Linked DNA regions of Homo sapiens. The protein of the gene in region 3 purifies or fractionates together with the protein of the main gene of each other region. This does not show direct contact. Each region holds a gene or a part of one and is shown on either strand. Other genes may lie near its edges.

Region 1 (7,029 bases), on a different chromosome or scaffold from region 3:
AAAATTCACCGAGACATAAAAGGTATACAAAAGTCTAATATGAACCTGAGAAAAATAGAAGCATTCTGAGCAAGCTGAGTTTTTTTTTGCTTTTCTTTTTTTCCTCCTAGCTGCCAATGTCTTGCTCTCAGAACAAGGAGATGTTAAACTTGCTGATTTTGGAGTTGCTGGTCAGCTGACAGATACACAGATTAAAAGAAATACCTTTGTGGGAACTCCATTTTGGATGGCTCCTGAAGTTATTCAACAGTCAGCTTATGACTCAAAAGTAAAGTATTACCTGTACAAACTGTTTTGGGCTTGTTAATAAATTATATATGGCACACTATCCTAGTTAATACACTGCCTTATTTTTCCTTGTTTCACAAGTGTTTCTTAAGCTAGAGTTATGTCATATTTTGCTGCTTAATCATAAATTCCCTCACAGCTAACTAATATTTGGACCCTATTCACTTCAATGGCTTTTCATCCCACGTGGAATAAAATCCTAAGTCCTTTCTGTGACATATAAAGCTCTACACAATCTGGCCATTATCTGCCTTTCCAGTCTTATCTCCTACCACTCTCTTCTAGATTATTCATCCACAGTGGCCTCATGGTTGTTCCTCAAACATAGCAAGTACACCCTGGCCTCAGGACCTTTGCATGCCCTTCCCTCTGTCTGAAAAAACCTTCTTCCCACAATCAGGTCTTTGCTTAAATATCACCTACGCAGGGAAGTCTTCCCTGGCCATCTTATGTAAATTTGCAACACCCTTCCCCCCATGATTCATTATTCTCTTACTATGCTTTGTTATTTTCTTCACAGAAGTTAGCACCGTCTGGCACCATATTATTTATTTATTTATTGTCTTTCTTATTAGAATGTAAACCCCTTAAGAGCAGGGATTTTTGTCTGGCTTATACACTACTGAAATCCTCCATTCCGAGAAGGGTACCTGGCACAAAGTATGGAATTCATTATGTTTTACATAAATGAATTCTACTAATAAAAATTTATTAACACCACATTTTCTTGAGAGACAAGTACTGTATAGCCATTAGGTTCCACAGACTATTTTGTGGTAGTATATTGGAATGGAGTTTCAAGGTGATATACATACATACACATATATATATATATATATATATATATATATATATATATATATTATTTTCTTTTTCCTTTTACGTTAGGCTGACATTTGGTCATTGGGAATTACTGCTATTGAACTAGCCAAGGGAGAGCCACCTAACTCCGATATGCATCCAATGAGAGTTCTGTTTCTTATTCCCAAAAACAATCCTCCAACTCTTGTTGGAGACTTTACTAAGTCTTTTAAGGAGTTTATTGATGCTTGCCTGAACAAAGATCCATCATTTGTGAGTATATATTGCTATTATTACTATTTGTTTTCTATTATTAGATCTACTTATAGCAAAGGCAGCTTTTCCTGCAGTAGGGAATACAGTGTATGTGAGAATTGTCTAAGATCCATCCAGGAACCTGGTTCGTCCTTCTGTATTGCTATTTCTATTGAGTTCTTAACCAGATTCTTCATTCTTTTTCTCCTTACCCTTCGTTTTTTTCTTGATCCTCAGCTTCCTCCTTATTCTATTCATTATTTCCTCTTTCAGGGGGAAATAAATTTGAGAAATAAAGTTAACTTTATATTATGTCATTATTAAAGTGTATGTATAAATACAATGATTTTTGTTCAACTGTTTTCATTTTTCATGAAAAGTTATATTTGGGTTTAACTATTTTTTTTTTTTGAGATGGAGCCTTGCTCTGTTGCCCAGGTTGGAGTGCAGTGGCATGATTTTGGCTCACTGCAACCTCCAGGTTCAAGCGATTCTCCTGCCTCAGCCTCCCAAGTAGCTGGGATTACAGGCACCCGCCACCATGCCTGGCTAATTTTTGTATTTTTAGTAGAGATGGGGTTTCACCATGTTGGCAAGGCTTGTCTCGAACTCCTGACCTCTAGTGATCTGCCCTCCTCAGCCTCCCAAAGTGCTGGGATTACAGGCATGAGCCACTGTGCCTGGCCAGGTTTAACTATTTTTATTTGGTGTTTAGAAACTTCAATGTGAAGTTGTATACTTTTCCTAGGCTAGTGAGCTCCATTCATTTACTTGGTGGATTCTATTACAGTTGTTTTACTGTTGTTGAAATAAAGCTGCCTTGTGACTTTTTGAGACGAGAAATACACAAGAGCAGTCCAAACTTGATATAACTATTTTTAAGTTGATGATAAACATTCTCATGTTAATAAAATGAAGGCGGAACATCCTCCACAGCACCTGGTGTTTGCATTTAGATGCAATAGACATTGATTTGTGATGGAGAAGGGATTATATGTGTAGATAATAACAAAATTACAGCCTTGCAAGTTTTCATCAGGTTTTTTCAAATTTACAGTAAATGTGATTAAAGTATTTTAGAACACTACTTTGAAATGTTTTTAAATGTTTACTTTCTAAATACTGTCATGTGTCTCTCTGCTTTTGAGAAGGCCCTGCCTGCCAGTTTGCTGGTGGGTAAGCCACCTGCTGCCCGTTGGGCTTTAACAAATTGGGACACCAAAGTAGTAGATTCAATGTGGTTGCCTTGAGCCACTTCAATAATAGAATTAGCTATTTTCCTACAGCATTTTAGTTGTTCTTATGTCTACAGACATACCTTTATACCTTTCAGCTTAATAATTCAAATGATTTTTTTTACCATTCCTTGTAATCATAAGAGTTCAACAATTGTCATATGCAGCCTTGATCTTTTTATCCTTAGCGTCCTACAGCAAAAGAACTTCTGAAACACAAATTCATTGTAAAAAATTCAAAGAAGACTTCTTATCTGACTGAACTGATAGATCGTTTTAAGAGATGGAAGGCAGAAGGACACAGTGATGATGAATCTGATTCCGAGGGCTCTGATTCGTATGTACAAATTATTTAATTTTTATGTAGGCAGCCTATTTAAATATTGTATATCTTTTAGCTATGCTCCAGTGTGCTTGTTCTAGCATAAAATATAAACCATATTTTGAAATTTCACCTTAGAAACTGTAAAAATCTTTTTCAATCACAGTCTGTGGAATACAATGGAGTTGGAAACATGTTTTTCTTGGAAGTGAATAGCTCTAGTTTTAAATGGTCTTGGTCTAACCCCTAGTGGATACTTGAGTATATTACAAAATTTTGGAACAGGATTCAATTAAAGGTGTTATATTAGTTTGCTCAAAGTAATAAGGAGCTGTGTTTTCTCATACTTTGATGGCAACCTGCAAAATCCCTCTAAAGAACTGACCTCCAGGCTTTTCCCACCTCTTGGCCATGTACCAAACCAAGATCAGACTGATACATTTAAATATTCATTTATGCATGATTTTTATTTCTTGAAAAAGTTGTAGGGTTTTATAACAGCAGCGTTTACATTAAAAATTCAGCCTCTAAGTCTGTCAATTAATTTAGACTAGGAAAGTCTGTATGCTATGCCAGAATTTAGTCCTCCACCAGCTGAACTGGCACAAAGGCAACACCAAATTTCTTTAGATACTACTCTGAGATTCTTCCATTTATGAGAAATTGTCCAATGTTGGAAAGGGATAAAAAATATCAGAATAATTTGTGCCCTATTCTAATGGGTGTTAGCCTTAGCTTCCCATAAGAGTCACTCATGGAACCTTAAAGCAATCACAAGCCACACCACTGGAGATCCTGATTCAATAGGTGGGGAGTAGTGAGGGACAGGTATTTATCTATGGTAGGAGGTCTCAATGAAGCACACACAGAGTTGAGAACCACTCCACTACTACTCTGTAGTAAAATGTAGTATTCGCCTGAAGCTGAGATCAGATGCTTTTTTGCATCATGAGTTTTTAAACATTGGGACAATTATCCCTTTAGATTCTACCTGCATTGATTTGGTATTTTTGCCAAGCTGAATCATTTGGGCACTTATAGAGGTATCTTTGGCAATCTCTTTAGGGAATCTACCAGCAGGGAAAACAATACTCATCCTGAATGGAGCTTTACCACCGTACGAAAGAAGCCTGATCCAAAGAAAGTACAGAATGGGGCAGTATGTATATGGAGACAATTACTTACTCTTCATACAGTTTTTCAAACCATGTAGTGAGATGATAATGGCCTAAAATTGTTAGGATTGAATACCCCTAAATGCCTGTCTGCCTCACTGTGTTTGTAGTATGCTTCATTTGTCATTAGTTTTGAGCTAATTAAGAAAAGTTAATAGAAGTTATTTAAGTGGCCATATTGGTATTTTTTAAGTGCATTTCACCTGGAGATACATAAGCCCAGGGAATCATAGGTATCTATTGTAATCCCAGAAGTTAGAGGACTTCTGGATGATGAATGAGAATGAATGATAGGAAGAAAGCTTAGAGACTTGCCTTGCATACAATCTTTTGTTTTCAGTAGGGGATTCAAATTAGTTCGTATTTGTTAAAGAATAAGAAAATCATGACACTTATTTTAATTTCATGTGTATAATCTATATTATTTGTTCAAAGGAGCAAGATCTTGTGCAAACCCTGAGTTGTTTGTCTATGATAATCACACCTGCATTTGCTGAAGTAAGTACAGATTAATTAGCCTTGGATATCTGTGTTAAGTAGTATAATATTTTAAATGTTTTAACTATTATTCTTTCTCAGCTTAAACAGCAGGACGAGAATAACGCTAGCAGGAATCAGGCGATTGAAGAACTCGAGAAAAGTATTGCTGTGGCTGAAGCCGCCTGTCCCGGCATCACAGATAAAATGGTGAAGAAACTAATTGAAAAATTTCAAAAGTAAGTTGGAAATGTCATTTTAAAAATTATTTTGCATTTTCTGTTGTATGTTAATTTATGATGCAATGTAATTCCTTTGATTCAACCATTCCAATTATTCCTAACAAAGTCACCTTTCAATACATAGTTGTATACTTAAAAATAGTTTTTGTCTGTTGTCTATCTTAAACATTAGCTTTTAGAATGATTATCTTTAGGCATGACAAGGTAGTTTTCCACTGCATGAAATGACCTGTTTTTCTTTCTCCACTAGTAGGATTATAGACAAAAGGTCACTGAGCATATTCTCATTTGAGCTCTTATTAATATAATTGTGGAATGCTTTCTTTCTTGCCACTACCCTCAGAATTTAACAAAACACCACTAGTTGCATAGTTTCCAGTGCTAAAGTTCCTACGTTTGATCTCCATATGAAAAGTTAAGGAAAAGGTAGAGGGACTCAATCCAGACCAAAAAAGGGCTCTTATGTTCAACTTCAGTTTCTATGTTGTCTCTTGAAATATTCATTTGATTTTGTTCGCATTCAAAAAAGTTCTTACATTTAATTTTTTAAAAAATTTTCAACAAGACTTTTGTATGCATGCACACATATACACTCCTTAGCTCAAGCAAGCTATAAGGTGATACTGATTTTAGCCTTGACCCTGCTATATCTCTTCTCAGTGCATCTTTATATTTCTTTGTGTTTGTGATGCCACTGGGATCGAGATGGAACAAACTCTGTGACCTGTGAAATCACACACTCTCAAAGATCTTTCTATCTGATAAGGCTCACTTGTACTCGCAAACCTAACCCCCTCTTAAAATCCCTTATATTTTAATGAAAACCCCCCATTTGAAAACAAATCAATCGGAAGTTGTGAAATCAGATGCAGAAGGGATTTTTTAACTTGTTTATATTTTAACATCTACATGATAAGATTCAATAGAAACAATGTATCCCTTTTGTGGAATCAGTTTCTTCATTGCAGAGTTCATACAAAGGAGAAATATAAACATGCATAGTTGTACATTGGTTTAAATTTTTTAAAAATTTTATAGGTGTTCAGCAGACGAATCCCCCTAAGAAACTTATTATTGGCTTCTGTTTCATATGGACCCAGAGAGCCCCACCAAACCTACGTCAAGATTAACAATGCTTAACCCATGAGCTCCATGTGCCTTTTGGATCTTTGCAACACTGAAGATTTGGAAGAAGCTATTAAACTATTTTGTGATGGCGTTTATCATTTTATATTTTGAAAGGATTATTTTGTAAGGAATAACTTTTAATACTATAGTTTCACCTGTATTCTAGTAAATGTTGAGACACCGTTTTGCTTTTAAGTATCCCTATTTCTTAAGTTACGAGGATGAATACCTTTCACATTTTGATCTTTAGTTGACTCTACAGTCATGAAACATACAGGTCTTTCAAAGTCATTCTCAATATTCAGCTTTTGTAAATTATCAAGCTTCAAAAAGCTTTTTTTTTTAAAAAAAAACATGCATATTCTAAAAATGACTATTGGTGGGGAGGTGTAAATAAGTCATACCTTCTTAAAACAGAAAATTTAAGTAAAGTCTTTTAAATGAAACCTGTAAAAGTATTGACTCTTCTACCAAGTTGGTATGATATTCCAGGCAGCTCAATGATTATCACATTTGAGACCCTGTGTTTGAAGCATTTACAGGCAATGTACAGCAACAGAGGTACCTCTTGGTGTATAGTATTTACATTCTCTTTTAGGTAGAAGAGGCAATTTTACCCTTATTTCACATGGTTAGAAATTTAAAGCAAGATCATTTACCCAAGGATAGGTGTTTGGTAATGTTGAAGGAGTTAGTCTGGCTTCATGTTTTACATCTTCAACTAAAATCCCATACTATCTGCTTGGATTTGGAGAGCCAAAAAATAAAGCTGATTGTCATGTGATTAAATATCTGATCAACAGGTATGAATATAACTTAAATCAGCATATTTTTGCCATGGTAATAAATTGTCCTATAAACTATTTATATATTTTTGTTCTTCATAATTATCACTAATAAGCATCAGTTTGTTGTTTTTAAAAGGATATTTAAGTGAGCATTTTCTAGTTCATATGAAAATAACCATAGTACAGGATGATTTCTGTCCACACAAAGGTTAAATTAGATTGCACAGTTAATTTTCACTTATATTTATGGTACTATTATGTGGGTGATGCCTTTTTCTTTTAAGCCCAGTACATATATTATGCCTGCCTAAGTTCTGA
Region 2 (7,029 bases), on a different chromosome or scaffold from region 3:
GAATGCAGTGGTGATCTCTGCTCAGTAAAACCTCCACCTCCCAGGTTCGAGCGATTCTCCTGCCTCAGCCTACTGAGTTGCTGAGACTACAAGCGCACGCCAACATGCCCAGCTAATTTTTGTATTTTGTGGTAGAGACGGAGTTTCACCATGTTGGCCAGGCTGGTCTCGAACTCCTGACCTCAAGTGATCTGCCCGCCTCAGCCTCCGAAAATCCTCAGATTACAGGCATGAACTACTGCATCTGGCCTGAATGGTACTATTATATTCATAGTCTCACCAATACAATTATTAAATAGCTATTATTCAAGTAATACATCTTTTCTAATACAAAACATTGAGAAAATTACAAGGTTTGAGGACCGATAAATAATATTTAACAATAATGATGATGTTAATTAAATACCAATTCAGTAAAACTTACATGTGGGCCCTAAATGTGTAGATAGGCTCTACATCTAAAGAGGCACTCCTAAAAGAGGGGGAAAAAGGGTAGGGGAAGAGAAGGCAATTAAATAACTATGAATCACTGGTTGATATTAAATAGTCATTAGATCAAATGTGTGCATTAAAGACATGCAACAATAATGAGGAATAATTACTTATATTAGCAAAATTGGAAGAAATACACCAGGCTAACACTAAAATACTTGCTTTTTGGCAGGAACTGTTTTTTGCAGGTTCCAAAGTTTCAGGGTATGGTCCTCAGAAGCAGTAACCAGCACAGGTTCTACAGGATGAAAAGCTAATGCCCGTACTCCATCAAAATGGCTACGTAGTGTATACTTGGGATTCCATGTCTTTCGAAAGGCATCTTTATTAGCAGGCAACTAAAAGGAAAGAGCACAATATTTAGTGGTAAAAGTAGTAAACTGGAAGGCATGTGGAGTGTTTGTTCGTTTCTTTTTGGTGTGTTTAACACATATATTTAAAACTGTTGGCTAAAATGTCCAGTGGAAATTTAATGTACCTTTAAAACTTTCTAAAAAAACTTTATCATTTAATAATAACTCAGAATAATTTCATTCGCCTTACAAATAGCCTAGGTCAAATGAAGAGTTCCTTAATCTGTTTTTACCTATTAAGCTAAACCCAAAGCTCCCATTAAATGTCAGATGAGAACAAAATAACTACCATTGCTGCAATACTTTACATGAAAAATAATTACATAAGTTATTACAAATATCCAACGGTACAGTATTAACAGTAAAGTTGTCATTTAGAAAACGTATTAGCATGTGAAATTATTAAAGGCAGCAAGTTAAGGTACTTTCTGAAAGTCTGAACTAAAGACCCTTTAAGAATATTTTTATCCCATTTTCATAATTCTTGATATTGACAGAGGTTTATCTTTTTACCTTCACATTTCTCCATCTGTAAAGATAGGCTGTGAAACCACTTCTAAAGCAGTCAAAAGTTTACTGGAATTTAGTCACTTATATACTTAAAAAAATATATTAATGAGAATAATCCAGCCCACCAAAGGCTGTCTCTAAGCATGCTAATGTTAAGTATAAAACGTGGAAAAAAGAAACTCATTATAAAAAGAAAAAAAAATTGCTGAAAAACTGCAATTAACATAAAGATCTAACAAGTATAGTTAACTCTCAATTGAAATATTAATGACTAGAAAAAATTAAATCCAAGACAAGTTTCACCTCTAACACTGGACTCCCCACTCCCCAACCCTTCCATCCACTCCCCAATCCTCTAATGAAGGAGTTAAGTATTCAGGAAATGATGCAAGCTAACTTTAAAATGTTCAGAAACTTTAAAATATTTCCTTAAGAAAATAAAAGTTCAAAAATAAAACATGCTTTTTAAGAAGTACTCTGAAGGCAAATATATGATTCAGGTTATTTTTTTTCTTGTTAACACCAAAATATGGCTTAATTTGAGATAATTGAGAGTTGACTACTCAAGATGTATTTACTGACCAATATATTAATCATCTCAAACTTCTAGTTAATCCACCAAAATACCTAAAAAAAAAATTTAAATACCACAAAGAGAGTAGTTATAAAAGAAAAACATGTCACTTCAAATCAACACATTGACACAAACTTATCTTTTCCATGCACCTTGATATTAATTCTGTTTTATAAGTGATTCCAAAAAATAAGGAGCCTTCTATTAAATCATTAAAAAATTAAAAATAAAACTGCACTTACATCATAACTATAGTCTGCATCATTTGTTACCGTCAAGTCTGCAAGGTCTCCAAGGCCCAGTACACTTAACAAAACATCATCAGAACCCATAATAAATGACTTGCCTCCTCCAGATGGAAACGTTATTGGTTCAGCTATAAAGAACAAAACCGCTTCTTAAATGCTGAAAAATCATACAGTACAAGACAATATTGTGGGGAAAATTTAAGCACTTAACAGTTACAATATTCAGTAATATAATTAATTTTTATTTTCCCACTTCTACTCAAAAAATCCTGTTACTAAGCAGTGTTAAACAAATGTGTTGGAACTGTGGTGTATTAACTGTCCACAAATAAAATGTGCACTAGATATATTATTCTGGGGTGGAAGCTAGGGCACAAAAGCTTTGTCTGTCTAAATCTCTTATCACTTCAGTACAATTATAACTATAGTTTACATGTTAAATAAGAAATAGGACAAATTTTGATTAAATAATGGAGTTAAATATCAGATTTTTGCATTCATGAGGGGAAACCTCTACCATGGACCTCAAGGACCTCAAAGTAGTCATATAGTATTTTTTAAATGTTAATAGGTTGTCACCAAGTCCTTTTGCTTTCTAAAGAAGTACTAGGCATCCTAGTCCCTGATAAAAACTAGTACAAACATTGAAATGTAAATGGTTTACAGTCAGCTATATACTATATCAGTTCACTAGAATGAAGCTTTAATTGTTCAGATTCCTTTAGTAACAGCAATGGTCTAGGAAAAAATTCTTCCACCAACAATGTCAGTTTCCTTTCTATAAAAGGTTAATCCACGTGGTCTTCAGAATGTCTTCCAGCTTTATTTATTTATTTATTTAGAGACACAGTCTTGCTCTGTCGCCCAGGCTGGAGTGCAGTGGTGCGATCTCGGTTCACTGCAACCTCCACCTCCTAGGTTCAAGCAATTCTCCTGTCTCGGTCTCCCAAGTAGCTGGGATTACAGGCGCCCGCCACCACGCCCGGCTAATTTTTCTGTTTTTAGTAGAGATGGGCTTTCACCATGTTGGCCAGGCTGGTCTTGACTCCTGACCTCAAGTGATCCACCTGCCTCGGCCTCCCAAAGTGCTGGGATTACAGGCGTGAGCCACCGCGCCCAGCCTGTCTTCCAGCTTTAAAGCTTTGACTATGACTTTTATTTTAATGTCCCATTCTAGTTACCATGACACTCTAAAATGAAGCAAGTAATCTTGACCACAGAGCTTTAATTTCTGATCAGATTTGCCATTTCAATTTCAAACTAAACTCAGGTTGAGCTTCACTTAGTTTTCTCAACTATATCATGTGCATTATTACAGCTTTTCATGTTAATATTAACAGTTCCAATTATTTAAAATGCGTTTTCCTTTCTATACATACTACTGACCAATTAAACTCTGCCATAATTGAATGACTATTATCTAAATATTTTGTTGTAACAGTCATAGTTTAAGCAACAACCTTCAATATCATTTCAAATATGCTTTGAAAGCAAAATTTTAACATTAAGATAACAAGGGAGAAATACTCAAATCATAATATAAAACTCAATATATCAAAACACACTTAAAATTCATGAGCAAATTTAAAAGGGACACATTATACAAAAAATCAAGCTGATTATCAATTTTAAAAAAATTCCCATGAAAAATGATATAAATATGCTACAGGAAACACAACAGGTGTAATGAAACTTGACAGTCATCACTAAACTACTGGAAATAATTCTGAGAAGACACAATTCATATATATACTATGGCAAAATAAAATTCAACTGTACTTAGAATATCTTGTTATTTTATTATTTTATCCTATCAAAATAAGCTATATAATCTGACTCAAATAGGGCTCTAAAATGCAGCTCTGATTCAGTTACTTGATCTAAAATGAATCTGAAAGCACCTGACAGAAAATATATAGAGATATTAAGTAGTATTTAATCTTTCAATGATGACACTTATTGAATCTGAATAATCTGTAGCATTGATCTTTTGATCTTTTCCTACCAATTATTAGTATGCAGTTATTGGCAATACCAGAAGCAGCTAAAAACTATAAAATCAATAATTTAAACTTATGTTTAAGGATAATTATATAAAAGTCATTATATAATATTTACTCAAAGCATTTTTCTCTAGACAAAGAAATATTTTTACTTTAAGCTCAGGGAATTTGTTTCTAAGAGAAGTCAGAACAAAATGCCACAGTTCCTCCCACTCACAATTATACAAACATTCACTGACACAAATCTCAAAAGCCCAATAAAATAACTTTAACGTAACAAATGATTTTGCAAGACTATCTCTGATCAGCCAGACCAATTTAGGAGCATGTGAAGGGAAGTGTCTGGACATTAGTTTTACTCGAGTTTTGGCTTAATTGTACTTAACAAAAAATTAGTATTATACTCATTTCTAATTAATCATATGACCACATTTCTGTCCTTTTTCTCTATATACACACATATATTTTATGACATATTTATGTACCTATTGCAAGCTATTCTGCTTAATCACTATTTACACATATATGTGCAAAAATTCTTTTACACTACTACCTCTGCTTTCCATATTACCCATCACTGTGGCATATGGTAATCACAGCAGCTACTCATCTGTTTGCCCTTATTTCCCTGCAGAGGGAATTAATTTCTATCCTATTCATTTTATTAATGGTAATATAATTACCCATAATATAAAAATGTCATTAGTAATTCAAAGAAAAATGTAATTATTTAAACAAGTAGTTTTTTTGGTTTTTTTTTTTTTTGAAGTCTTGCTCTGTCGCCCTGGCTGGAGTGCAGTGGCGCGATCTCGGCTCACTGCAAGCTCTGCCTCCCAGGTTCACGCCATTCTCCTGCCTCAACCTCCTGAATAGCTGGGACTACAGGCGCCCGCCACCACGCCCAGCTAATTTTTTTGTATTTTTAGTAGAGACAGGGTTTCACCGTGTTAGCCAGGATGGTCTCGATCTCCTGACCTCGTGATCCACCAGTCTCGGCCTCCCAAAGTGCTGGGATTACAGGTGTGAGCCACCGCGCCCGGCCTAAAAAAAGTAGTTTTAATATCTTCTTTTTTTTTCTAATAGAGACAGAGTTTGCTATGTTGCCCAGGCTGGTCTTGAATTCCTGGGCTCAAGTGATCCTCCTGCCTTGGGCTCCCAAAGTGCTGGAATTACAGGCATGAGCTACTATGCCTGCCCTAGTTTTTAATTTAATGATGGAAATTTAGGAGGCCTAAGAGATTTCATCAAGTAAGATAACAATACTAGTATAACGGGTCTATAAAATACAAGGTCTTTTTCAGACTTTTGTAACTAATCTTCCTTTTGATGGACACTTATGATGAAGGAAACCTGTAGCTCGCATATTGAACTCTTTTTCCCAAGAACTTAGTCCAGGTAACAGATTCCATTTATACCAGTGGCAACATGGTAGGTCTCAAGTCTTTAGCAGCAATAGTCTAGAAGATTGTAATGTTGAAGTTCCACTCCTAGAAAACAGACATTTGTTCTTTATAAAATGAGGTAGGACATGGACTTCAAAAGTAAAGAAGGAAGTTGGGGACTGCCACTGAAAATAAGGAGACTGTATACTCCAAAGCTGCCTTCTTAGCTTGAAGTCAAACTCACACCTCTTTAAATAACAAATTCCAGGAAGATCGATACTTCAAAAACTGTAATGAAGTTCACACTTATCAAATCTCTCCCCTCGCCCTCCTACCAGCATCAAGAAACAGATCACTGACCTATATTCTTTCTTTAAAACACACACATAACACATAAACAAACACACATAGAGAGTTCTAAGTTGGTTTTTGTGTAGAGTGTGCCTTGACTGGCTTTTTCCGTTAAGTCATTGGTTTGAAACATTTAAAAGGGTCCACATTGCTAACGTGGCTTTGCCTTAAATTGCAAAACCTGCACTTTAAATGTACATTAATTACAAAAATTTTAGCAAGTTGTACTATGCATATTTGGCAAAACAGACCAAAAACGAAGCAAAATCACCACTAAATGCATAAAATTAAAAAAAAAAAAAGGAGTTGCTATGTGTATTTTAGAAAATACTTCTAAAGTAAAACAGGAATATATCTCAATAGTGGAAATGAGATCTGAAAAAATTAACAGACACTATTTTATTTTTCATTCATTTTGTTTTGAATGATTTTGTTACTTTAGTGATTTTTTTTAAGGTGAGTGAAGTAAATGGTAAATTATGAGAGGGAAAAAATGCAAAATTATTTAACTGTAAGGAAACTGTGCCACTAGGGAAATCTTAAAAGGGAACAAGATGTATTTAAAATTTTTTGACTGGGACATCAAACAAATCCCCTTTACAGAGCAAAGGCAATAACATCAATTAAACTTAATACATATGCCAAATTACTGTATCTCATATGTCACAATAATCTTTGGTTAAAAATTCAGATTTAATACTTATAAATATCTAGACTTAGAGTTATACATGATTCAAGTATACCCATATATCTTCGGCTAAAATCAATTTTGGAAAAAATGTTTAAGTAGTACTTTCATTTCCTACACATTTCTGGTTTAGGCAAATTTTATAAAATTCATTACTAGGTAGCGTATACTTGCTACCAAGTTAAAGAATAATGATGCTGCCTTATTCTCAAATGATTAATTTAGGTAACAGTTACATATATTTTTTGAAGTAATATATATTTAATGTAACAGATTGGGCACTGTGGCTCACACCTGTAATCCCAGCGCCTTGGGAGCCAAGGTAGGCAGATCACTTGAGGTCAGGAGTTCGAGACCAGCCTGGCCAACATGGTAATATTCTGTCTCTACTAAAAATACAAAAAATTGGCCGGGGAATGGTGGTGTGC
Region 3 (7,029 bases):
CAAACAAAAAACAGGCCCACAAAAATTAAATCAGTACTTATTAGAAATGCATAAACAGAGAAATTATAAACACGAAGGCATAAAACCTCGACTGCAAAGCAAACACAGGCAATATGAAGGCATCGCACTACAGTCCTCTGTGGAACAGGAGGGAATGGGGCTCATACTCAGCCTCTCTTTCATTCTCTCTTTAGATCTCATCCAAGGGGTCTTGGTTGTTGATATTCTTTTATGAATACCAATATATGTAAATGGTTTGCTATTCTTTTGGGTTTTGTTTACATTTTTCTTTTTTCACCATAAATCTAGGCTTTTGAGGGGAGGAGACAGTTTAAATATATTTTTCAACTGCCTTATATGGAAATATTCAATTGCAGCTGTAATTTCCTGGGAAACCCTATTTTTAATAAGTTATCCGAAAGACAAATTTTTTTTTCAATTTGTTTTCAATCTTTAGACCACTCAAGGGTTTTCTTACACAGAACTACAGAAGATATATCAGTTGCCTTATTTTTTTAGAGGTCTGCAATATATTTTTAAAATCTTTACAAAAGAAAAATGCTTTATAAATACCAAGTATTTTAAAACTGTAAATATGTTTTATATCTTCACTAACATTTCCAATGTTGTCTAGCATAGACAAGCTTATTTTAATAAATCCTGCCTAAATATGGGAAAAATAGGACTTCATCATGAGACTATACTGTTCATCTGAAATTCCCGACAATCATAAAAATGGTAATACTTAGTTAAGAGGTTAAATAGTGGTTAAGACAGAACAGACCGGTATTCATACAGCTACTCTAATGATGTTAGCAAAAGGTCAATCAGTTTTGCAGTGTCATACGCAAACATTAGTAAGGTGAGCATCCTGCACAACATGCCAGGAGGAAGGGAATGACTGGACATGCAATGGCAGAGGGAAGGAGTGAGAACAGCTTCTGGCATCAGCTTCAGAGGGTGGAGAAGGTTAATGTCATAGCCCAGATCATTCTTGTTTTCTGATTTAGCCTTTAAGCCAATCATACATGGAGGATAATTTTTAAAAGATATGTTTCAATAGGGAAAAGGTGTAAACCAAATTAAATCAAATGTATCAAATAAAAAAAGAAAAAACAGAAAAAACAATTTCCAAGGGTATGGAAACTCAGTTGCCTGGAGTGATTTCTGGTTTAGGCTTCTGTTCATCTAACATTTGAAATGTGTCTATTTGGCAAGTTCAGGAGGAACAAGAAATTCTAGTTCATTTAGAATTAAGAATGTTATTAAAAAATTTAACATTTGGCTATAAAGGTTGCCAAATAGAGTTTGGGTAATTTATACTACAATTCATTAAAAGGCTAACTTCTGTCATTCCAATTTTCCTTGGGGCTCTAACTTAGTCATAATTTTTATAGATAAAAGCTTACATGGAAACACAGGATTCTAGAGTTGGAAAGATCATGGGCCAGTAGTTCTCCAAGGAGGGAGAGGTAGTTTGAAAATTTATCATGCAAGTTTAAATCTTTTTTTGTTCGGGAATATTATTATATAATTTTGGTTTAATGTTTTGAGACATGGTCTCACCGTGTCACCCAGGCTGGTGCACAGTGGCATGATTATGGCTCACTGTAGCCTTGACTTCCCGAATTCAAGTGATCTTCCCACTTCAGCCTCCTGAGTAGCTGGGACCACAGGCACACACTACCATGCCCAGCTAATTTTTATATTTTTTGTAAAGATGGGATTTTGCCATTTTGCCCCGGCTGGTCTTGAACGCCTGGGCACAAGTGATCCTCCTGCCTCGGCCTCCCAATGTGCTTGGATTACAGGTATGATTACTGCAGCCAGCAATGCTTTTGTTTTTAAATGAAAAAGCTAATGGCTCAGAGGGAATTAGCTCTCTAGGGTGATACTTAGAAAGGGGCAGAAATGGACTAATCCTGCCTTACTATACTTAGTTCAGTGCTTGTTTGATCACTGAAATTGGAAGAGACACCTGCCAGGTATTTGACAGATGTGTGTTGTCCCTGTGCCTTGCTTTGGGCAATCACAATGGAATCAGTGGCTGTTTGGAAGGTTAATCCCCTTCAAAGGGCTCATGACCTGGAGAGGCACAAGCTCAACCAGGCACAGACAGGTTAGTAAGCAGGGTGGAGGCAGCTCTGGTGTTTCTTAGTTGCAATGGTCACAGTGGCGAAAATAGGGGCAATCTAAATGCAAAACAGAGTTGAAATCCTCTATCTTATTTGGAAAGATCAGCTGAACTACATTTATACTTGAGTTGTAGAGTCGTACACCCCCATTGTGTAAGTGTAATCACACTTCCATTTCCCAGTCTAGGTGCTCAGTAAACACTTGCTGAATGACTCAAGGCCTCCAGTGCCTCCGTTCTCCCTTAATAAGCCACATCTTCTAAGCAAATGACATAGAAACTGGTTATTCTACCAAAAGTAATTCAGAAGTTCTGAGAGGAATAAATAAATAAAATACTTTGGTAAAATTGCAAAAGTCAGAGAGTAGAAAATAAGGAATCCGATTTCCGTATCTTCAGTCGCTGGTATTTTTTTTGGTTTCTGGTCTATATTGTCTTTTGCTCTCCAGACATAAGTGAAGGGCATTTTTCAGAGGAGTTATAGCTCTTTTATGTAAAATTTTACTGAATCCTAGGGCAGGATATCCTGGTGAATAGATAATAGATTAGTAAATCTCTGTCTTTAAAAGTTAACAGATTTTAATCCGTTAACTTTTCAATCCTGTTGACAAAATGTTCCTCAGTCATAGATCCTGGTTTTAAAGCTTCTCTGCCGAAACCAAAGGGCACATGCAGCTAAACCCAGGACCACAGTAATGACTAAGGCAACAAGTGGCAAAGCCTCAAGGTCTCAAAGTAAAGATGGCTTTGTATTTTTTTTAAGTGACAAAACTTCTATATCCTAGGAAGTGTTTTCTACTTTACAGTCTATGCATTTATGGCAATAGCACTGCCACTGCTCCACACATTTCTGGAACTTGTGTTTTGTGACTGCCCAAAGATCTTATAGTACATTCTCTATTCTCCTGAGTAGCAAAATTCCTCTCTGAGGGTGGATTTAATTTGTAAGAAACAGCCAAAATTATTTTAGGCCACGAGAAAAGCTGTTCAACTCAGTAATACCATTTTGGATCAAAAATATAGAATGCTGAATGCCTGTAAAGACATCTCAAAATAATACTAAAGTCAATTCCATAGCAAATTCTCAAAAATACTGTAAGCAACAATATCATTGAAGCAGTAATATCACCTCTATTTATTGATTACTCATGCTATTCTAAGCTCAATACCAAGCTGACAGGTTATAGGATCCAATCCTCCTAACAGCCACCCTCCCCCATATGAGTAGCAAAAGAAGTCACCAAAAATGCACAATTGTAAATGGCAGAGACTAGATTTCAACATAGATCTAACTTCCAAGTCCATGCTGCTTCCAATTCCCTATTTCGCCCCTCAAAATATGGATAAAGCCTCTCAAAGACCTTAATTTCAAGTTGATAGCTTATAATTGGACAAATAAATCCTAGTGTACTGCTGTCATCACCTGATAATTAGCAAATATGATGCTATTTGCTTTTCTCTCTCTCCCCTCAAAGTATTAAATATAACAACTGTTCAAACCTTCCTGTAATTATAAAAGTTCTCTCCCATTTGAACCAACAATCTCCACCAACCACTAAGATCCCATGGTAGGAGAGACTTCTTCAAAGTGTCAACAGAACTTTGTCATCCACATTTTGAGGGGTAAAATTGGGAATTGAAAACAGCATGGACTTTGCAGTTAGTCAGATGTGTTTGGAATCCAGTCTCTGCCATTTACAATTATGTATTTTTGGTAACATTACTTTAGAGCCACATTTGCTTAGTAAATAACTAATCCAGTCATGTCAGTAAAAAGCAATGCTTTCTCTAGCACTGTATAACAAAAGGGAAAAATCCACCTCTTCTTTGTTCAAGAGTCCCAGATTCAGTGACTTCATAAGCCACACCTGCAGTGGAAACCTTCTGTGACATAGCCCACATGCTATGTTAACCATCTGTGCCCGAGTGTTGGAAGATGGCAGCACTAAATAGGGTACATGGCTTTTGAAATAAACTAAACTTAGAACAGATTTATAAATATTCACACTCCATTTCTGAAGGTAAAAAAAAAAAAAACCGAAAACACCAAACTGATATTAGAACTTAAAATATACCAATTACGGAACAAATCTAGTCAATTTGGTAATCCAACATAGTGTTAATAATTACTTGAAAGGTCTTTAAAAATGTCATCTCAGAAGGAACAGAATTGAACACGTACTGTCTGATCATGACCCACTGAGGTCTTGCGAGATAAATATTTAATAAGAAGGAATACTCTTTTCTCCCATGTAAATATTTTAGTCTCTCTAAATTAATGGTCTCCATGTGCTTTAAGCCACTACTTTCAGGTTATCTTAAATGAAGAAAGCACTTAGCATAGCGAAACCGCAATTCATATAGCAAGATGAATCACCATACCCTGGAGCCTTTAAAAAAAATACAAAAAAAGAGAGAGAAAGAAAAGAAATGGGGGTGGGGGGAAGCATCAAATTTAAAAAAAAAGTTTCAAGGCAATGTGAAGAAAATCAAGGCAAGTGAGAAGAGAGGCCATATTCTTTAAAAAGCGTATAACATTTCAATCCCTTTACCTGATGCTGTTACCAGGAGGCTGTCTGAGGCACCTGGTCTACAGGATGAGGCACTAACGGGGTTTATGGAAGAGCAAAAGGCAATGGTGGTAGGAATGACAAGGGAACTGTCTGAACATGCAGGTTGGTTCAGTCCGGGGGTTGCAGCAGGCCAGGCACCCACCTGAGACGTGGCCAGGGCTGAAACGGCACAGCCTGCAGGTGCCACAGTTAAATCTATGGATGGTTTTGGTGGCAGCTGAGGGGAGGATGACTTAGGAAGGTTCTCCTCATTGATCACCCTGTTCCCTTGTGGCAAACTGGAAGGAGTCGAAGCCACAGTTTTGTTATCAACTTTGGCCCCTGTGTTCGAGGCCCTGCTGCTGTCTATAATAACCTTGAGTTGGGGGTGTGGTGGAGAAGGAGTTTGGGAGAGCCCTGGCTTTTTTGGAGGGATAGGAGGAGGATTTCCTCTGTCAACTCGTGCTACACCATGAGTCTTTAAACTGGTCCGACCAACTGGAGGGTGGGTGCCAACATCCCCTGTTGGGGGCACTCCAGGCCTTGAGGGAGCACCTGCTTGAGGGCTTGTAAATCTTGACAGTGCTTGGGTCACAGTATTCCGAGCTAGTTGTTTGGCCACTAGGTTGTCACGACTTGTAGGCGAGACATCTCTTGACGGAGGACTTTGGGTAGTATTTCCATTTTGGTCTGGGTCGTTAGCATTGCCCTGAAATCTAAATCTAGCTGCTTGGATTCGTGGGTTTAGACCTGGATGCAAAGAGGTGTTGGCACATGGTGAATGTAAACTGTGCATAGGTGGAGCTTGCGAGTTCTGAGGAGCTATGCCTGGTGTTTGAGCGGTGGGAGGGGCAGCGTTACTGGGAAGTGGGGGTGTGCTACTGGTTGGATCTGGTGTTGAGCCAGTGCTTGGTCCATTTTCCTCAATTTTGTTTGCACTTGGAGGTGGGAAAGCGGGTACAGAAGCGCCAATCAAGTCACCATAGGAAGCCTGCCTGTCAATACCTGGTCTGGCCATGGTGGCACTGGTGCACACGCTCCCTTTTGCATTTGCAGAAACTAGGGGACTCCCTGTGGAAGGTTTTACAGGCATGGTTAAAGGCAACTTTTTCATGTGGTCAGCATTTTCTGTCACTAGGTCTGTCTGGCATGCAACAGACCTTGTCACAGTTCCTTCTGTTCCCACAGATATGGAAACCAAACGCCTATCTTTTGTCTTCCGTGGAAGAGAGAGGCTTGGTTTGCTGTCACTTCCCCTTTTCAGTTGCTCAATCATTTTCCTCATCTTGTCTATCTCCTCTTTGAGGTCAGTGGTGTGTGCTTCTTCCCGGTTCAGCTTGGCACGAAGCTGTTCCCGCTCAGTGTCAAACTCAGAGAGTTGTTTTTCCATCTGAGCTTCCATTTCTGTGCTTCTTCGTTTCTCAGCGGAGAGTTCCTCTTCTAATTCATTCGTCTTTTTCTTTTCCTCTTCCAGTTTGGCCATTACGTCTTCGAGCTTCTGGGCCTCCTCTATGACTTTGCCTGAGAGCTGCTTGCACTCTTTGACCAGCATCAGGACCACCTGCTTGTTCTTGCCACGCTCTTCCTCAAGGCGGGCAGCCAGCTTCTTGTGCTCTTGCTCAAGGGCTTGTAGCTGAAGCTTCTCCATTTCCAGCTGAAAGAAATTCACAGGAAAACCCTGATTAATATACAGAATTTTCTTTTCACCAAGGAAATGCTTTTTGTGAGATTTTTATTAATTTTCTAACAATTACATAACTCGGGTTAGCAAAAACGCCACATTTTCAAAAAGTGTTGTGATAAGAAATATTTTAAAGACACATTAAAATGAGAAAATAGACGTAAATGGCTTTATAAAGACATCTAAATTACAACAATAGAGAATTTTTAAAGTCTATTGAAGTTAACTACAGAAAAAGAGAACAATAACCAGATGCTTTAAATCACAGCACAGGGATCAGAAAGGTCTATTTTTGTAAAAACACAGCTCTGTGATGGAATTGGTGATATTTTTAAAAAAGGTTTAATGCTTTAAAATTATTAATCTCTGAGGTAAAGTATCATGAAAAGTACTGAAAACCGAGGACTTCAGTTAAATTCTAAGCCCCCATGTTTGCTAATTGTATTACCTATCTCAGTAATGTAACATCTTTGAGCTTCCTATGATGAGTTGTTGTGGAAATCATATAAAATTATATATGAAAGAAAGTTCTTTGAAAACTCTAAAGAGCTAAAGAACGATCTTATTAGAACTACATTTGGTGTCAGTGAACCTGGAGCCTGACCTTGTCTCCTACTTTGATCCTGCTTACTCCCTTAGCTTCGCTGGATGCCCGGAGTTTC
Region 4 (7,029 bases), on a different chromosome or scaffold from region 3:
AAAAAAAAGAAAGAAAGAAGGTCTCACTATGTTGACCAGGCTGGTCTCGAACTCCTGGCCTCAAGCGATCCTCCCATCTCAGCCTCCCAAAGTGCTGGGTTTACAGGCATAAGCCATCACGCCCAGCCCCTTATGATTTTCTGAATAACATTTTCTCTAGCTTCCTTCATTGCAATACACTATATAATACACAGAACATACAAAATGTGTGTTAATCGACTGTTATCGGTAAGGCTTCCAGTCAACAGTAGGCTATTAGTAATTAAGTTTTGGGGGAGTCAAAAGTTAGATACTCAGATTTTCAGCTGCACAGAGGGTTGGGATCCCAATCCCGGAGTTGTTCAAGGGTCAACTGTATAATGCAAGCCATATATTTAATTTTAAATTTTCTAGGCCCAATGTGGTGGCTCACGCCTGTAATTCCAGCACTTTGGGAGGCCAAAGTGGGAAGATCACTTGAGTCCAGGAGTTCAAGACCAGCCTAGGCAACACAGGGAAATGCCCCTATCTCTACAAAAAATTTGAAAAATTAGCCAGACATGGTGGCACTATGATTGTAGTCCCAGCTACCAAGAAGGCTGAGGCAGGAGGATTGCTTGAGCACAGGAGGTCAAGGGAGGTAAGCCAAGATCAGGCCACTGCATTCCAGCCTGGATAACAGGGTAAGATTTCGTCTCAAAAAATTAATTAATTAACTTTCTAAGAGATACATTAAAAAGGGGATAACGTGAGGCCGGGCGCAGTGGCTCACGCCTATAATTCCAGCATTTTGGGAGGCCGAGGCAGGTGGATCACAAGGTCAGGAGATCAAGACCATCCTGGCTAACACGATGAAACCCCATCTCTACTAAAAATACAAAAAATTAGCTGTGCGCAGTGGCAGGCACCTGTAGTCCCAGCTACTCAGGAGGCTGAGGCAGGAGAATGGCAAGAACCCGGGAGGCGGAGCTTGCAGTGAGCCAAGATCGCGCCACTGCACTCCAGCCTGGGCAAGAGTGTGAGACTCCGTCTCAAAAATAAAAATTAAAAAATAAAAAATAAAAAGGTAACGTGAAAGAGGTGAAATTAATTTTAATATTGTAGTTTGACCCACTATATCCAAAATAATACCATTTCAGCAGGTAATTGATATAAAATTAATGGGCTACTTTTTGACTTTTAAGATATAATTGATACAACTAAAATTTACTCTTAAAAATTCAGTAGTTTCTAGTATATTCACAAAATTCTGCAACCATTACCACTAAATTTCAGAACATTTCAGCATCCCAAAAAGAAACCTTGAACCAATTAGCAGTCACTTCCCATTCTCTCCTTCCCCCAGCCCTAAGCAACAACCAACCTAATTTCTGTTTCACAGGATTTGCCTATTCTGGATATTTCATTAAAATGAAATAATATAATAAGTGGCATTTTGTGTCTGGCTTCTATTATGTTTTCAAGGCTTATCCATGGTGTAGTATGAATCAGTACTTCATTCCTTTTTTTAAAATTCAAAACTTTTTAGCCTTTAATGTTTTTAATATATACAAAATGCCGTACTGTATGTTTCTCCCTTTAAGACTTCATTCCTTTTCATGGCTGAATATTATTCCATTGTACACATACAGTCAGCACTTTGCATCTGCAGATTCAACCAACTGCAGATCAAAACTACACTTTAAAACCCCATAACAATAAAAAATAATACAAATTAAGAAATACAGTATAACAACTATTTATATAGCATTTATATTGTATTCAGTATTATATGTAATCTAGAGATGATTTAAAGTATATAGGAGGATGTGCATAGGTCATATGCAAATACTATGCCATTTTATATAAGAGACTTTGGTATCTGTGGTTTTGGTATTCATGGGGGTCCTGGGACCAATCCTCTGAGGCTACTGAGAGATGGCTGCAACACATTTTGCTTATCCATTCATCAGTTGATGGATATTTGGTTGTTTCCATTTTTTGGCTATCATAAATAATGTGACTGTGAATATTCATGTACAAGTCTTTGTGCAGATAAATGTTTTCATTTTGGGGGAACTACATATCAAGGAGTGGAATTCCTGGGTCGTATGCAACTCTATGCTTACCATTTTAAGGAACTTCCAAACTGTTTTTTGAAATAGCTGAAGCATTTTACAATCCCATCATCAATGTTTAGGGGTTCCACTTCACATCCCCGTCAGCACTTGTTATTGTCTATCTTTCCTATTTTAGCCATTATAGTGGGTATGAAAGTATATGCCATTTGGGGTTTTGATGCTTTTTTCTTAACATTTTAAAAAATTGTAGTAAAATATATACACCACAAATTTTTCCATTTTGACCCTTTTTTTTTTTTTGAGACGGAGTCTCACTCTGTTGCCCAGGCTGGAGTGCAGTGATGTGATCTCCACTCAGTGCAAGCTCCGTCTGCAGGGTTCACGTCATTCTCCTGCCTCAGCCTCCCAAGTAGCTGAGACTACAGGCACACGCCACAGCGCCCGGGTAATTTTTTGTATTTTTAGCAGAGATGGGGTTTCACCGTGTTAGCCAGGATGGTCTTGATCTCCTGACCTCGTGATCCGCCCGCCTTGGCCTCCCCAAGTGCTGGAATTACAGGCGTGAGCCACCGCGCCCAGACAGCTATTTTGACCATTTTTAAATGTACAATTTAGTGGCATTAATTTACAATATTGTGCAACCATCTTCACTGTTTCCAACTCTCAAACAGAAACTATTATGGCCAGGCATGGTGGCTCATGCCTATAATCCCAGCACACTGGGAGGCCAAGGCAGGTGGATCACTTGAGGCCAGGAGTTTGAGACCAAACTGGTCAACATGGTGAAACTCCGTCTCTACTAAAAATACAAAAATTAGCCTGGCATGGTGGTGCACGCCTGTTGTCCCAGCTACTCAGAAGGCTGAGGCAGTGAACTGCTTGAAACTGGGAGGTGGGGGCTACAGTGAGGCAAGATTGTGCCACTGCACTCCAGCCTGGGCAACAGAGTGAAACTCCAGCCTGGGCGACAGAGCGAAACTCTTGTCTCTTAAAAAAAAAAAAGAAAGAAACTCGGCTGGGCGCAGTGGCTCACATCTATAATCCCAGCACTTTAGGAGGCTGAGGTGGGCGGATCACATGAGGTCAGGAGTTCGAGGCCAGCCTGGCCAATAGGGTGAAACCATGTCACTACTAAAAATACAAAAATTAGTCAGGCGAGGTGGCACATGCCTGTAAATCCCAGCCACTTGGGAAGCTGAGACAGGAGAATCGCCTGAACCTGGGAAGCGGAGGTTGCAGTGAGCCGAGATTGCGCCACTGAACTCCAGCCTGGGCAAAAGAGCAAGACTCTGTCTCAAAAAGAAAAGAAAAGAAAAAAGTCTATTACCCTTAAGCACTAACTTCCCATACCGCCCATCCTTTGGCAGCTTCTACCTACCTTCAAATGTCTATATGAATTTATTCACTCTAGATAAGTGGAATGCTACAGTATCTGTCCTTTTGCATCTGACTTGTTTCACTCCACATAATACATACTGGATTTTAAAGGTTCATCTGTGTTGTAGCATGTATCAGAACTTCATTCCCTTTCATGGTTTTATAATATTTCATTGTATGTCCATGCTACATTTTGTTTCTCCATTCTCACGGTGGTTTTTTTTTTTCCCTTATCAAGCATGGTTGTGGAGGAGACAATGTTAATCAGCATAACAATAACGCACAACCCTCGCACCAACTGTCTGTGGTTTTGAGATGTGCCTTAATAACTAATGTTGAGCATCTTTTCATGTGCTTACTGGCCATTTCTGAATCTTTTTTTGAGACATGGTCTCTCTCTGTCACATAGGCTGGAGTGTAGTGGTGTGATCTTTGCTTACTTCAACCTTGAGTCCTTGGGCTCAGGTGATTCTCCCACCTCAGCCTCCCTAGTAGCTGGGACTACATGTGCACACCCATCACACTCAGCTAATTTTTTGTATTTTTAGTAGAGATGGGGTTTCACCATGTTGGCTAGGCTGGTCTCGAACTCCTGACCTCAGGTGACCCACCTGCCTCGGCCTCCCAAAGTGCTGGGATTACAGGCGTTACTGTCTTCGAAATCCAGTATTTATTTTGTGTTTACAGCATATTTCAATTTTGACTACCCACATTTCAAGTGCTACACAGCTACATGGGGCTCATGGGTTACCACATCACTGTATCTTTAGACCTTTAACTGGTTTCTGAATTTTTAATTTGGATGACATTTTGCATTGTTTTTAGCTGCCTTCCCTTCACCTTCCCCCAGTTAATTCTCAGGTAACTATTCCTACTCTGTAACAGTTATAACAGCAAAAAATGGCAAAATATAGCAGGTTACAAAATACTATGTAATGGTGTTTACAAATTTTTATGTATTATATTTTTCCAAATATATAATCATAATGCTACTGCAAGTGATCACAATCAGCATGTGACTGTGAGGGCTTGTAGACAGTAAGTTATAATGTTTGTCGCCTAGAAGCACTATTTGTATAATTTACTCTATATGCTGAATGCCTCTCTTTAATTCTCAAGGATACTGAATAAATGATTATTGGTGCTAAGTATTCTGCTGCTCCCACTTCAGAATCTCCCTAGTGATTTTAATCCATGAGAGCAATTTTCTTAGCTTAGTTTGTCAGTTCCTATAGTTTCCTGACTAAGCAGTTATTCAAAAACAGTTCAGAAAGTGTCCTTTCAAATTGTTCTTTTGTTTGTATTTTTACAGTAACTCCACTCAATATAACTACCACTTGGAAATCCTACTATCACCCTCCCTTGACACATGGCCAGTTCAACAGATCTGGACTTCAGCAAGCAATGCTGCAATTCTAAGACTCAATTTACAGGTCTTAATGCTAATGACTATCCTGTCATTTAATATTAATCAAGAAAGAAGTGGATATGAGAATGACAGTATATTTAAGAGTCATAACACATCACAAACTGGATATCACTTCCACTCTAAAGAAAGAATAATACATCATTACTATTTGCCAAAACAAAACTAGCCTTGATTCAGCCTTCTTGATTCAGTTTCCTAATTGCAATAATCACATCATTCACTACGTTAAGTAGCCAACTTCAGTGAATTATCAATGAAACCACTATGTGGATTTTCCCAGATGTAGACAGATACAATCTTTTTATTTTTTTTATTTTTTATTTTTTTTGAGACGGAGTCTCGCTCTGTCGCCCAGGCTGGAGTGCAGTGGCGGGATCTCGGCTCACTGCAAGCTCCGCCTCCTGGGTTCACGCCATTCTCCTGCCTCAGCCTCCCAAGTAGCTGGGACTACAGGCGCCCGCCACTACGCCCGGCTAATTTTTTGTATTTTTAATAGAGACGGGGTTTCACCGTTTTAGCCGGGATGGTCTCGATCTCCTGACCTCGTGATCCGCCCGCCTCGGCCTCCCAAAGTGCTGGGATTACAGGCGTGAGCCACCGCGCCCGGCCGACAGATACAATCTTAATACTGCTTCAATTAATTAACATAAAAATGTGACATCCTGAATGAAACCAGTCTTCCAAATAAGTACTATTCTCTTAGGTATCAAATACTCCTTATTTTGGAGCATTTGTCCTTTTTGAAACAAAAAACATCAGATATTGATTTTGCAACTAGGGCCTCACTTGTCTTCAAGCCTTAGAAGTCTATCAATATAATGACCACTTCAAGGTCTATGATTCTACAGAATTGGCCTAACCCAATATCCCCAGTGAGTCAGTGTCAAGTAAAAAGTAATTATAACAGATTAAATGGGAATACAGATTAAGGGAAAAGCAATGCATAAACAACCCAGATGTAAAGACCATTTTGGAGACAACTAAGGAAAAGTATACTGGGTATCAGATGATATGAAGAAATTTTTTAAATAAGAAAAAGTACAGTAGGCCAGGCACAGTGGTTCACACCTGTAATCCCAGCACTTTGGGAGACTGAGGTGGGCAGATTACTTGAGGTCAGGAGTTTGAGACCAGGCTTGCCAATATAGCAAAACCCCATCTCTACTAAAAATATAAAAATTAGCCCGGCATGATAGCGCATGCCTGTAATCTCAGCCACTTGGGAGGTTGATGCATGAGAATCTCCTGAATCCGGAGACAGAGGTTGCAGCGAACCGAGATCATACCACTGCACTCCAGCCTGGACAACGGAGTAAGAATCCATCTCAAAAAAAAAAAAGAGCAAAACAAAAAACTGCTACTGCCTATAGTCTTACCTTGACAAAAACTAAATAAGGAGAAAAACAACATGAATATTTAAAAGCTCAAAAGTAACATTTCTACTTAAACTAGGCATCAGAGTAATCAATAGTTCTTCCTATCAAAAGAAATAATCTGAACAAAAACCTAAACAGGCGTATCTCAATCATTACACAGTAGATATCAGCACAATGTGACAGATGTTAATCCGTAATAGCCAGTGGATCATGAAGTGAGTTCTAGCCCATGTAATTGCCCAATTATGAAAAATGATGCTTATCATAAGAAATCCTAAAATAGCACTGCAGTAACAACTTCACAACAAGCAACTCAAAATGAAATAGCAAAATGAACAGTGAACTAAAAACCCTAAAAACTTGTCTAACATTGTCTTGAGAGAGATTTAGGCTATAATAATTTTATTAGTTACTCTATTTCATAAATCCTCACCTCTTTTGGAGTTTTATGAGCTGCACAAAGAAAAATCCATTGTTCAGTTGCTGTCATTTGAGTGCAAGTATCTGGATGGCATTCACTCTGTTAAAAATAATTATATTTCTTAATATGTAAAATAATAATGAAAAAGCTTATCATTTAGGTTACTATATTTCCATAATAAATTCTAGAAGAAAGTTAGAAATGTGGATACGTTTTTGTAAGCACATTAAGTTATAAAAACAGAGAAAAAAAAATCAGAACTTTCAATTATAACTTTGACTTAAAGAAAATATTACCTGAAGTTTGACAGCAAGTCCATTTAGCTCAAGGCAGAACTGCCTGAAAATGCAAATACATAAATAAAAAGTCATATCTATTCTTCACAGC

What was found.
Region 1: the proteins of CTTNBP2 (region 3) and STK26 purify together in Homo sapiens (affinity purification with mass spectrometry; 4 studies listed by BioGRID and IntAct, with this or other methods). This does not show direct contact.
Region 2: the proteins of CTTNBP2 (region 3) and STRN3 purify together in Homo sapiens (affinity purification with mass spectrometry; 4 studies listed by BioGRID and IntAct, with this or other methods). This does not show direct contact.
Region 4: the proteins of CTTNBP2 (region 3) and MOB4 purify together in Homo sapiens (affinity purification with mass spectrometry; 2 studies listed by BioGRID and IntAct, with this or other methods). This does not show direct contact.

Annotation. Positions count from the first base shown.
Region 1 is NC_000023.11:132,068,302-132,075,330, forward strand, and holds part of STK26 (serine/threonine-protein kinase 26), read left to right. Parts: coding exon 1-22; intron 23-110; coding exon 111-268; intron 269-1,176; coding exon 1,177-1,362; intron 1,363-2,767; coding exon 2,768-2,916; intron 2,917-3,966; coding exon 3,967-4,060; intron 4,061-4,511; coding exon 4,512-4,574; intron 4,575-4,655; coding exon 4,656-4,792; intron 4,793-5,833; coding exon 5,834-5,858; 3' UTR 5,859-7,029. UniProt on the Homo sapiens protein: Serine/threonine-protein kinase that acts as a mediator of cell growth. Modulates apoptosis. In association with STK24 negatively regulates Golgi reorientation in polarized cell migration upon RHO activation.
Region 2 is NC_000014.9:30,911,353-30,918,381, forward strand, and holds part of STRN3 (striatin-3), read right to left. Parts: intron 2,306-7,029; coding exon 2,172-2,305; intron 831-2,171; coding exon 655-830; intron 473-654; coding exon 425-472; intron 1-424. UniProt on the Homo sapiens protein: Calmodulin-binding scaffolding protein which is the center of the striatin-interacting phosphatase and kinase (STRIPAK) complexes.
Region 3 is NC_000007.14:117,786,442-117,793,470, forward strand, and holds part of CTTNBP2 (cortactin-binding protein 2), read right to left. Parts: intron 6,341-7,029; coding exon 4,687-6,340; intron 1-4,686. UniProt on the Homo sapiens protein: Regulates the dendritic spine distribution of CTTN/cortactin in hippocampal neurons, and thus controls dendritic spinogenesis and dendritic spine maintenance.
Region 4 is NC_000002.12:197,540,063-197,547,091, reverse strand, and holds part of MOB4 (MOB-like protein phocein), read right to left. Parts: intron 6,982-7,029; coding exon 6,939-6,981; intron 6,742-6,938; coding exon 6,655-6,741; intron 1-6,654. Other genes in the region: HSPE1-MOB4 protein, read right to left, coding at 6,655-6,741, 6,939-6,981.